3 separate regions of the Homo sapiens genome follow, and all the other regions are reported to be linked to region 2. The links are microRNA targets in miRTarBase. Many come from high-throughput screens and were not tested one by one. Region 2 holds a microRNA gene; each other region holds the end of a gene's coding sequence.
The links. Region 2 holds the annotated microRNA hsa-miR-19b-3p (UGUGCAAAUCCAUGCAAAACUGA, at 1,189-1,211, opposite strand). A microRNA usually pairs through its seed, bases 2 to 8, with sites in the 3' UTR of a target mRNA and lowers its output. Matches are read on the target gene's strand: a 7mer-m8 pairs with bases 2 to 8, a 7mer-A1 pairs with bases 2 to 7 and ends in A, and an 8mer does both.

Region 1: the mRNA of SOCS4 is a reported target of hsa-miR-19b-3p. The part of its 3' UTR that is shown has no 7-base or 8-base seed match.
Region 3: the mRNA of MACIR is a reported target of hsa-miR-19b-3p. Seed matches in the 3' UTR shown: 7mer-m8 at 2,129-2,135.

The regions. Positions count from the first base shown.
Region 1 is chr14:55,044,030-55,047,261 of GRCh38, forward strand. SOCS4 (suppressor of cytokine signaling 4) reads left to right here. Exons shown (of 3, transcript NM_199421.2): 3 at 1-3,232. The coding sequence ends at 335. Among named protein-coding and RNA genes, the nearest start is that of MAPK1IP1L, 6.0 kb to the right of the region's middle.
Region 2 is chrX:134,168,495-134,171,758 of GRCh38, forward strand. It overlaps MIR19B2 (microRNA 19b-2), which reads right to left and starts at 1,272; the gene lies at 1,177-1,272. It overlaps MIR106AHG (miR-106a-363 cluster host gene), which reads right to left. Exons shown (of 2, transcript XR_007068340.1): 1 at 3,175-3,264; 2 at 656-1,858. MIR363 (microRNA 363) reads right to left here and starts at 958; the gene lies at 884-958. It overlaps MIR92A2 (microRNA 92a-2), which reads right to left and starts at 1,118; the gene lies at 1,044-1,118. It also overlaps MIR20B, MIR18B and MIR106A.
Region 3 is chr5:103,275,927-103,279,190 of GRCh38, reverse strand. MACIR (macrophage immunometabolism regulator) reads right to left here. Exons shown (of 3, transcript NM_033211.4): 3 at 531-3,264. The coding sequence ends at 2,651. Among named protein-coding and RNA genes, the nearest start is that of MACIR, 19 kb to the right of the region's middle.

The DNA of each region.
Region 1 (3,232 bases), not on the chromosome of region 2:
CTCTTCATGCTAGAATTGAACAGTGGAATCACAACTTTAGCTTTGATGCACATGACCCCTGTGTCTTCCATTCTCCTGACATTACTGGGCTCCTAGAACATTATAAGGACCCAAGCGCCTGTATGTTCTTTGAACCACTTCTATCCACTCCCTTAATTCGGACTTTCCCTTTTTCCCTGCAGCATATATGCAGAACAGTTATTTGTAACTGTACAACTTATGATGGCATCGATGCCCTTCCAATTCCTTCTTCTATGAAATTATATCTGAAGGAATATCATTATAAATCAAAAGTTAGAGTACTCAGGATTGATGCACCAGAACAGCAATGCTAGTAACAGGATGGGAACATGGGAATGATAATATATATTTTTTCTTTTAATATTTTATTTTTCTTTTTATGCCACTTTGGATTTTTCTACAAAGGCAGTGGTGTCCAAAATAAAATCTCTGCCCTAAATTTTACTAATAAATCCATTTTTCTAGTGATACACAAATTGTTTAAGGTTATACACTCGAGCTTAAATAGATATTTTTAACCAGGTGTTTGGTTTTTGTTTTTACCGTGTAGGTTGTATACTTACATTTTTTCTTTCCTTAATTTATACATGATCCTTTTTCCTTAATTTATACATGATCCAGGCACATTTGAAATTTGGTAGGCATTGCAAACACATTTGAATATTGTGTATTTCATACTATTCTTTAAAAGTAATCTTATGTCCTTTCCTACATGTAAAATATTTTGTTAATCTATGCCATTAGTAGTATTATATATAAAATATAGTTCCCCGTCCCCCTTTTCATTGAGTTTGATATTCTTCAGTAAAGCTGAATGTTGTAATTCACCATTCATACTAATGTTATTGACTTTTGTAACTTACTAATAGGGATGTTAAAAGTAACAAAACCAAGTCAAACTTGGTGTATTTTTATTTTAAATATTAACTCTAAAGCAGGATTACTAAATTTGATTAATCTGGTCAATGAGAATCAAATGGAAACATATCATTCTGGAGGTGCACTTACTCTTCTACAATGTGGCCGGATCATTTGTCATTCCTGAATAGGTCTTTCTCTCAACCTGCAAGAGCTAAACCATCTTCAAAACATAAATCTTGTTCCTTTCTCATTGGAAGCTTTGAAAATAATGATAACACTATTAGTAGCTAGTAGTTACTAAAGTGCTAAAGTAATTGTGGGGTTTTTCTGTATTAGCTTATGAACTGTTGCTTCTACTTAGCCCTTTTATAGAAACTCTGAGCTGTTACTTTGGGGAAATTCCACAATGTATTAGCAGCCACAAATTTCCACTGGTAACCAAAGAGTACCTAAGTAGTTTTTCATTATTTTAAGTTGAATTTGAATAAAGATTCCAGAAATAAACATGGAGCTCAGTATTCAGGAAGCTTAATACTGTTTTTGATCTACAAGATCCAAATAATTATCCCTATCTTCAGAATTAACTTAGTCTGTAATGTGGCTTCAAAAAAAGAAAGCCTTTTGACAGCTACATGACTTACACCATACAGAACAGTACTGGACAAAAGGGGTGATATTTTAAATTTACTATCCCAGAAACAGGGCAACGTTTTTAGAAACATCTTTAGCCCAAAGTAACTAGTAAAAATAAATGGAGTGGTATCCTATCTTCTTTTTTTAAGGAATCAATGAATAATAAATGTAGATAGACAATTTTCTTCTGGTGAGCTGTCTAACCCTTTGTACACATTGACATTTTTAATATCGTAACTGATTTCTTGATGCTAGTTTAGCTATATTAGGAAACTGCTTCTACCTAGATTGAAAGAAATTTGACTCATAAACTTCCAAGTTAGAACAAATATTTCTTCATTATTGTTGCTTTTATGTGAGTAGCATTTCCCTATCTTGCAGTTCTGTTAACATGAAAATGGCATTTTTCCATAATAGCTTTAAAATAATTTTTTAGTAATTATTACAAAATTAAGGAAAATCTCTATTACCGTTATCTTTTAGCATTTTTTTTTTCCTCAGTGATCTCAAGATTGTCTTAGTCTCAATGAGATGTAGCTACAAAAATGGCACCTCTTAGCAGTGATGAGGCTCAGGATATCGGATATCATAACACCAATGTCAGGATAAATATCTCTTCTAAAGACGATATTTACCTTTTACAAGGTTAGAAAAGTCTCATACTACCTCATCTTTATTGTGGCGCTTTTGTAGATCACTGAGAAGCTTATCTTATTAACCAATATACCACTTCCTAAATATCCATCTTTGGTGAAAGAAAATAGTGTGGTAAGAGTACCCATGATTATAGTTTTTTATCAGAATTTGATAAGATTTTCTGTTTCTGTGAAACAATTATTTTAAATATTTTTCTTTTAAAAATAACTTTTTATCAGTACAGAAAAACCTAAGGGATGACTAGCTTACAAATATTCTGTTAAGGGGTAGTTTTATAAAGAAAAATGATATATAGTTATGTTGTCTTTTATAGTGTTAAAATTAGTATTTATATGAAAGTCAAGATCTAAGTACCTTTTCATATAATTCAAACTGATTGCTTGTGATATGTTTTCTCTGGCTTTTTTATTTTTTCAACTTCAAGGTATTAACAGCTGTTAACACTTAAAAAGTACTGCCACATATGTAGCCTTGAAGTAGTTGATCTAATAAATGAGAGCAGGGAGGAGATTCATTGACTCTGAAATGATTTTTATTTTTCCTTTGGTATTTGCTACAGTGAAAAGAAGTTTGGAAAGTAGATACATAAAGACTTGAGAAGGGAATTGTTTAAGGGAAAAGAAAAGAGTAATAATTTTTTTTAAAACATTAAGGAATTGGAATTCAGAAAGGTTACCCCCTTCCTCTGTGTCTTTGTAAGGATACATTTGGAAGAACATACAGTATTCAGAAACTAACCTATATAAAATGTAAACAATATATTGATTGCACTATATAAATGAGTAAATTTTGAGAGGAACAATGTGGGAATGTATAAATTTGTCTAAAATTTTATAACTGTTGAACAAAGGGAAGATTTGAACAGTGTAAATTCCAGAGTTGAGAAAGCATTTAGCATGGTGGAAATGTGGAGAGCTTATTGGTGAGAGAGGATGGAGCTAAGAGAAATAAGATCAAATATTAAAATTAGGAATTTAGGCATTACCTCAGGGAAAAGCCTTGACAGTGAAAAGAAACTACTTAATCGCTAATAGCTAGTCTGGACCAGACACTTAACTGC
Region 2 (3,264 bases):
AAAAGAAAAAAATAAAGAAATGCAATTCCTTAGGCCCCATCCAGACCTATTGAATGAATCTCTGGAGATGGGGTTGGCTGGCTGTGTCTTAGTAAGTGCTAAAGTTTTAAGAACCACTAGAGGATCCAAATAACTTTTGGTGTTCAGTCTCAAACCACTAATTAGCTGCGCATGAGAAATTTCTGCTTTAGGTTAGTCACCCTATGGAGCCCCCGAACCCTAAATATTAACAGTAGGCCCACATCCAGGTTTCCATCTGCTAGACTCCAAAGCAAGGCAGCAGCCATCCCTCTCAGTAGCCCTGCCACCAAATCCTCTTCTCCGAGAACCCCAAAACAGAGTTTGATTGACAAGTTCATTCTTCTCTCCTGTCAGACCTCAAAATGTGCCCAGTTCCTTAAAGGTATGTGTCCCATTGGTTTACAACTCTTCATTCCCTTCCTAAGAATGAGCACGTGTACTAAAACAAAATTAGTACATGTCATCCAAATATTGTCAGGGTAATAAAATTCCTAAAATTAGGCATCTTGGTGCTTTATGTAGATGCAAACTTGAAAAGCAGCTATGTCCAAGTTTTCCTTTAGGATCCTCCCAAGAGATATTTTACAAACTCCTCTAGCATTGCTAATTATTTTTTTTAAAAAAAAAAGAGTCATTTTTTCAGATCTATAAATTTCATTTATTTTGAGGTTCATTCACATTCAGTAACAATCTGATCATTCACCAAAGTTCCAAAACACATACTTTATAAATTAGCTATCATAGTTTTTAGAAATCCAAATATATTTCAAATTATTTTTTAATAGCAGCAACTAGAGAAAGGATTTTTTACCATCTAGCTTACTGTAGCGCTGATCAGGAATGTCGCCAACAAAGGTCCTGCGGTTTACAGATGGATACCGTGCAATTTTTCTCCTATGATACTCATCAAAATTGCATCGTGATCCACCCGACAACAGCAAAACAGATCATTTTACAATGACTAAATATCAGAACTTACGGCTTTTAAAAGTTAAAATAAGAAGACGATAAAAATCCTCCTTTCTTCCACAGGCCGGGACAAGTGCAATACTTTATATAGAACACAAGTAATGCAACAAATCCCCACCCAGGGATGAATGGGCATGAGTGCTGGAGATACGCATGAAGGTGTGTTCACACAGACGTAGGAAGCACACATTATCACAATCAGTTTTGCATGGATTTGCACAGCCACATATACATATATACGCTGAAATGCAAACCTGCAAAACTAATTGTAAGTAGCAATGTCTTTGAATATTCTCTCCATCAACAAGAGATTTGTTATCCAAGAGTACTGGAAGTGCCCATACTACAGTAGAGTCATGCCAAAACTACCTGCACTATGAGCACTTTGGTACTACTAGGACCCAATCTTATCCTCTGTACACAACTGTACACTGCACAGTCCCCACCATCTGTTCCCAACAAACAATAAAAAGGCAAAAAACAAACCACTGAAATGTGTCCTATTCAAATTACTACTCAAGGCATACTTTTAAAATGCTGTATATTAGGCAGCCTGTGCCAGAAGGGGCATTTAGGGCAGTAGATTCTAAGCTGCTTCACTAACTGCACTAGATGCACCTTAACACAAGAGACACATTATAAGAAGCAGCTCAAAAGCATCAACTACTTAATTATGCACAAACTACAGTTCTCAGTAGCCATTGACTAAATCACCATGGTAATGTAAGAAGTGCTTACATTGCAGTAGATCTCAAAAAGCTACCTGCACTGTAAGCACTTTTACATGGCCAAGGCCTATTCCTGTAGCAAAATTTTAAGTCTTCCAGGAGCTCTTCTTTTCCGTCCTCACAGATCCATGCAGACTCACCTGGTTAAAACAACAAAACAAACACACACATATTAGAAACTAAACAAGTAAACTACTAGTTAATATTCCTGAAACAGGCTTTCCTTTGGCTTACAGAGTCTAAGCTAGGTTTTGTGGTTTCAACCAAATCCTGAGAAATATTAATAATCTCAATTATTTACACAGAATTGAACACGAATAACACTGGCAACTGCAAAAAGTCCAATTCTTATGTATAAGCAGATTTTGGACTCCCCCTCTCCATCTAAGAAAATTTGATATCTGCATCTCAGTAATTTGCAGGCACATTCTATCCACCCTGATTTTATAAGAGGAGGACCTAGAGAAAGGAGCATGTAAAACCCAGGATGAGTATTCGAGTCTTCAGATCATTCAGAGCTTTTGGGCTCCATACGGAAAGTGACTGTTAGATTAAATGAATATTCCCAGCCCCCACCCCATTAATAGAAAATGAGAGAAATTTTAGAGCTGGTTTAAGAAACACAGCCTTACAGTCTTCACATAATGCACAGATGGCTGAGAGATGTCACATTTTGATCTATTTCAAAGGGCTCTACTTCTGTTTAAACATTTATGGACCCATTTTCTCCATTAAACCAAAGTAGGCAGATTAGCTCTTCTTCCCTTCATGTCATTATCTTCCATAAGAAAACCTTCTCCCATTTCCAAGTGCTTATTTTACCTAAGAACATACAGCAAGGAAGTGAGCCTCTATGTGAAAAAGGCTCACAGGGTCCCCTATCTCTTCCATGATGGGGTAACTTTTGTTTAAAAGAAAAACAAAAACGTTTGGGACAGAATCTGTAATACGTTAAACGAGTGAGGGAATTTTAAATGTTGAACTTTCGTCACGATATCTTATGCCACTAAATGAGTCTTTAGAAGTCTTTACAAACTAAACTGATTTATAAAACTTATACATCAATCTGGAATCAATTTTCTATTAGGGAAGAATGGATTTAGTATAGAAATGAGAAAAATAACATTTTTCCCCTTAAATTGGGTTTCTACACCTGTGAAGATTTCTTTTCCATTAAAAAAAAAATACTCCAAACTTGACTCAAAATGCATAGTATTTGCCAACCCAACCTGGCCAAACTGAGCCCCACAGCCATCAGACAGGGCGCCCTTCTAGTTACTACCTTTTGCTAATTAGCGGTTCATCTGGCATCCCTCGCGCACGCTGGGCAGTCACTCTCCAATCCCCTTAAATTGCAAATAATAATAATAATAATAAGGAAAAGAAAGAAAGAAGTCCTTCCCTGTACGCCTTTGTGGCTCCCTTTTGCCTCTTCCCGCGTCTCTCACACCCTTACCTAATGCTCCCGTTGAAGTCCGCGAGCAGCCCGCGCGTCCAGGGTGTGCTCCAGCTGCTCACACCACGCGCTCCAGTCCTCGTGCAGCCT
Region 3 (3,264 bases), not on the chromosome of region 2:
GAATGAAATTTTACTGCAACTTTATGCATCATCTGAGCTTCAAACAAACGGTACTTTTGCAAAAGAAGAAAAAAATTAAAGTTATATAGTGCTGCAATGTTTAAGGGCAAGAACAGTAAGATAATATCATCAGGTATATTCTGGCCAAGTGTGCCCCATTTAGTGTGGAATATTAAATTGAATAAAAAATGAAAAAGTTAAAAAATAGAAACCATGTCAAAAGGGATTGTTTTTCAACTAAAAGAGATCCAGCCTACCCTTTTTTTAAAAAAATTGGTTCTTACCTACCATAGGCTACAATTCCATGGGGTGCAGAGAAAGTAAGACTGAACTAATAAAGGGGTTCTGCAAACACATTGTGAAAATTACTGGCCTAGAGTTTTGAAACTTTCTTTCTAGAAAACCAAATTTAAAATTATATATCTTTACTAATCAAAAAAGAGTAAGTATGCCATATCTTATACTATTAACCCCCCTATTTTTGCCACAGAGTTTCACCTGTCTTTCAGGAAAAAACAAAACAAAACAAAAAAAGCTACAAATTTTTATTTAGCTATTATTAAGGAACGTAGGCACACGGACAGAACAGGTCTCATAGGTAACCAGTTGTGTTTCCTAATAGGGTGAATACATATCATTGCCATGAATACATCTTTTATCATAAAATGCCAATGAGCATCAAAAGTAAATGGTTTGATTGTTGTTGTCACTGTTTTGTTTAAGAAAAATAGGGCCTTAAAATAAGTGCTTCAGTGGAATTCTTGAACAGTAAGTAGCCTGTTGATAGTGGACCTAGTTTAAAGCACCACACAACAATGTGTGTTTACATCACCCCTTTATTTCATAGTTAGAAATAATACAGTTCCACAGGGTAAATTGTCAATAAATAATGGTGTTTAATCATTAAACATAAAAATCCCACTCTTTGGCATCTGACAGGATTCTATTTCTTGTCAAACTAATGACTGTATAGATATAGCTAATCTTAGTGATCATTCGTCAATACAATATGTTACAAAGGTGCAATTTACTTTAAAATATACAACAGCGAAACATTTCCAGCCCAACGAGAAATCTGATCAACTTAGTAAGATATGGGCCAACTTCCCCAAGGCTCTTTCACGTAGTTTGCCTTAATGAAAGTGTAATAAACGTTGATTAAGAGTTCCTAGGGTTTTCTAATACTTACTTTGCTCTAAATAGAGTTTGCCATTCATTCTGGCTAAAGAAAAATCACAATTGCACCAGGAATGACCCACTCATTAATTAAAAGGTGTTCTTATTTTATAAGCAAGATTGCTAATACCTAAGAAACTCACAGACCCCAAAATAAAAAGCAGTTCTGTGCTGCCAGAAATCCCAATTCAGTAATAAATTGCACCTTTAAGAGTCAAAAATGAGGGAAAAAAGAAATGGAACGTTTACAAAAGGTAAGTTACATACATTTTTTTTTCAAAATATATTCAAGAATAGTTGAGCTGTATTTGTTACTAAACCCAGGGCATTATTTCTTTAGCAACAAATTAAACCAGTGCAATTGACATAAATTGTTAAGTAATCCAGGATTAACCCATTAAAACAGTAGAAGCACGTTAGGCTCCTACACTAATCCTAGAAACTGGAATTTCAGTGAGTGCTTGTGTTACACAGAACTAAAACTGCAATGACCTGATGCCATGCTGAATGGTATCACTTCATACTTAGTTTAATCATTCAATAGTACAAATCATGAGTTCCTCTATTAAACTATTATTCACTTACAGAAAATTCAGATGCAAACAGTATTATGCCTATAATCCACAATTAAAAGAATCCTTTCCCATTTAAAGTTCCAGGTGAATTTTAAGTTAGAAAATAAGCACTAAGGAGAGTTTTTTCAACTTATGAAAACGTCATATTGGAAACTTTCTGGAAAAGTTTCCCCCGCCCACCCATTGTAAAATAAATACTTTGTATCCCAAATTTAATTTTATTAAGACACACTTTAATAACGCTATAAAGAAATATTTTACAGCCATAGAGATCAATAACTTTCCATGCGGAAATAAAAAATTCATTGCTCAATAACATTATTGAGGCAAGTGAAGAAAGATTACTCTCTTGTCAATCTGAAATGTTAATTTTTTCAGTGCAAAACCAGTTATAAAATATTTAAACTCAATATTTAAAAATAAAAAGTGGTCCAATTCAGCAATGTTCAAGTTCTAAATTTCATAAAACAAATCATTACATACATTTTATAGTAAAATACAGAGATTCAAGAAGTACTTGAGTACTGAAGATATAAATTTCTAATGAATCATATCAAGTCAGCAACAACCAAGCAGGTAACATTCCCAATTTGAGTGTCAGAATCATAAAGATGAAATTACTGTACCAAAGCCTTTTTTTCCTAGCTAAAAAGCTATACAAACTAACAGTCAACATTCTGTTTTCTTTGCAGTTGCGTGCTCTAGAATGATATCCCCCCCCCAAGTACCTGTGATTTCATTCCTGTATTCAAATTTGACCCAAACAATTTTTATGTTCCAGGAACACTTAGCTGATATAACCATCTATAGTGTGAAGAGTCATGTACAGAGTACAGCAGTGGGTTTTTTCTAGCCAAGCGTAGGCTGACCTAAATTGGTTTAAGCTCTCTCCAAGTCATTCATGTATTATTCCTAGCAAACACACGGTCCCCTCGGAGGGTTAGGTGTTGAAGCTGGTACTGTAGCACTTCTGTATCAGCTGGCTCCTTGATCATTTTATCTAGATTGAGGTAGTCCAGAGATTTGGAGTGAGCCCTCTTACCTTTAAGAAGACAAAGAGGCAGAGGCCCATGGAGGGCCTTGTAAGGTTCATAAGGTAAAGATTTAGTGCACTTGTCTCCTGAGCTTGGCATCCGCCTTCGCCTCCTGCCATTGACAGCTGGAATCTCGTATGGCTGGTAGTACCTACTTCTGGTTTTATACAAACGAGAGGAACGGGCAAGTCCTGCATCTAGCTGTTTGGAGCGTAAGGATGGCATGGCTTCTGCTTTGCTCTCTTCACCTCCTGTGCACTTCTGAGCTAACTTCAGGAGTTCCTCGCCAGTCGTGAAGCCAACCAAATAGTTAGAGTCCATGTGTAGGATCTGGTAGCCTGACACGGTCCTCCGCATCGGGGAGCAGGGTGTGCTGGAGCAGCGGGGCTTCTCTGCCTCCGCCTTTCCCGGGGAGTTGGCCTCAGCCCCAGGGAAGGGCAAGGTGGTCAGGGTACTTCTAGACTCTCCATTAATATCGA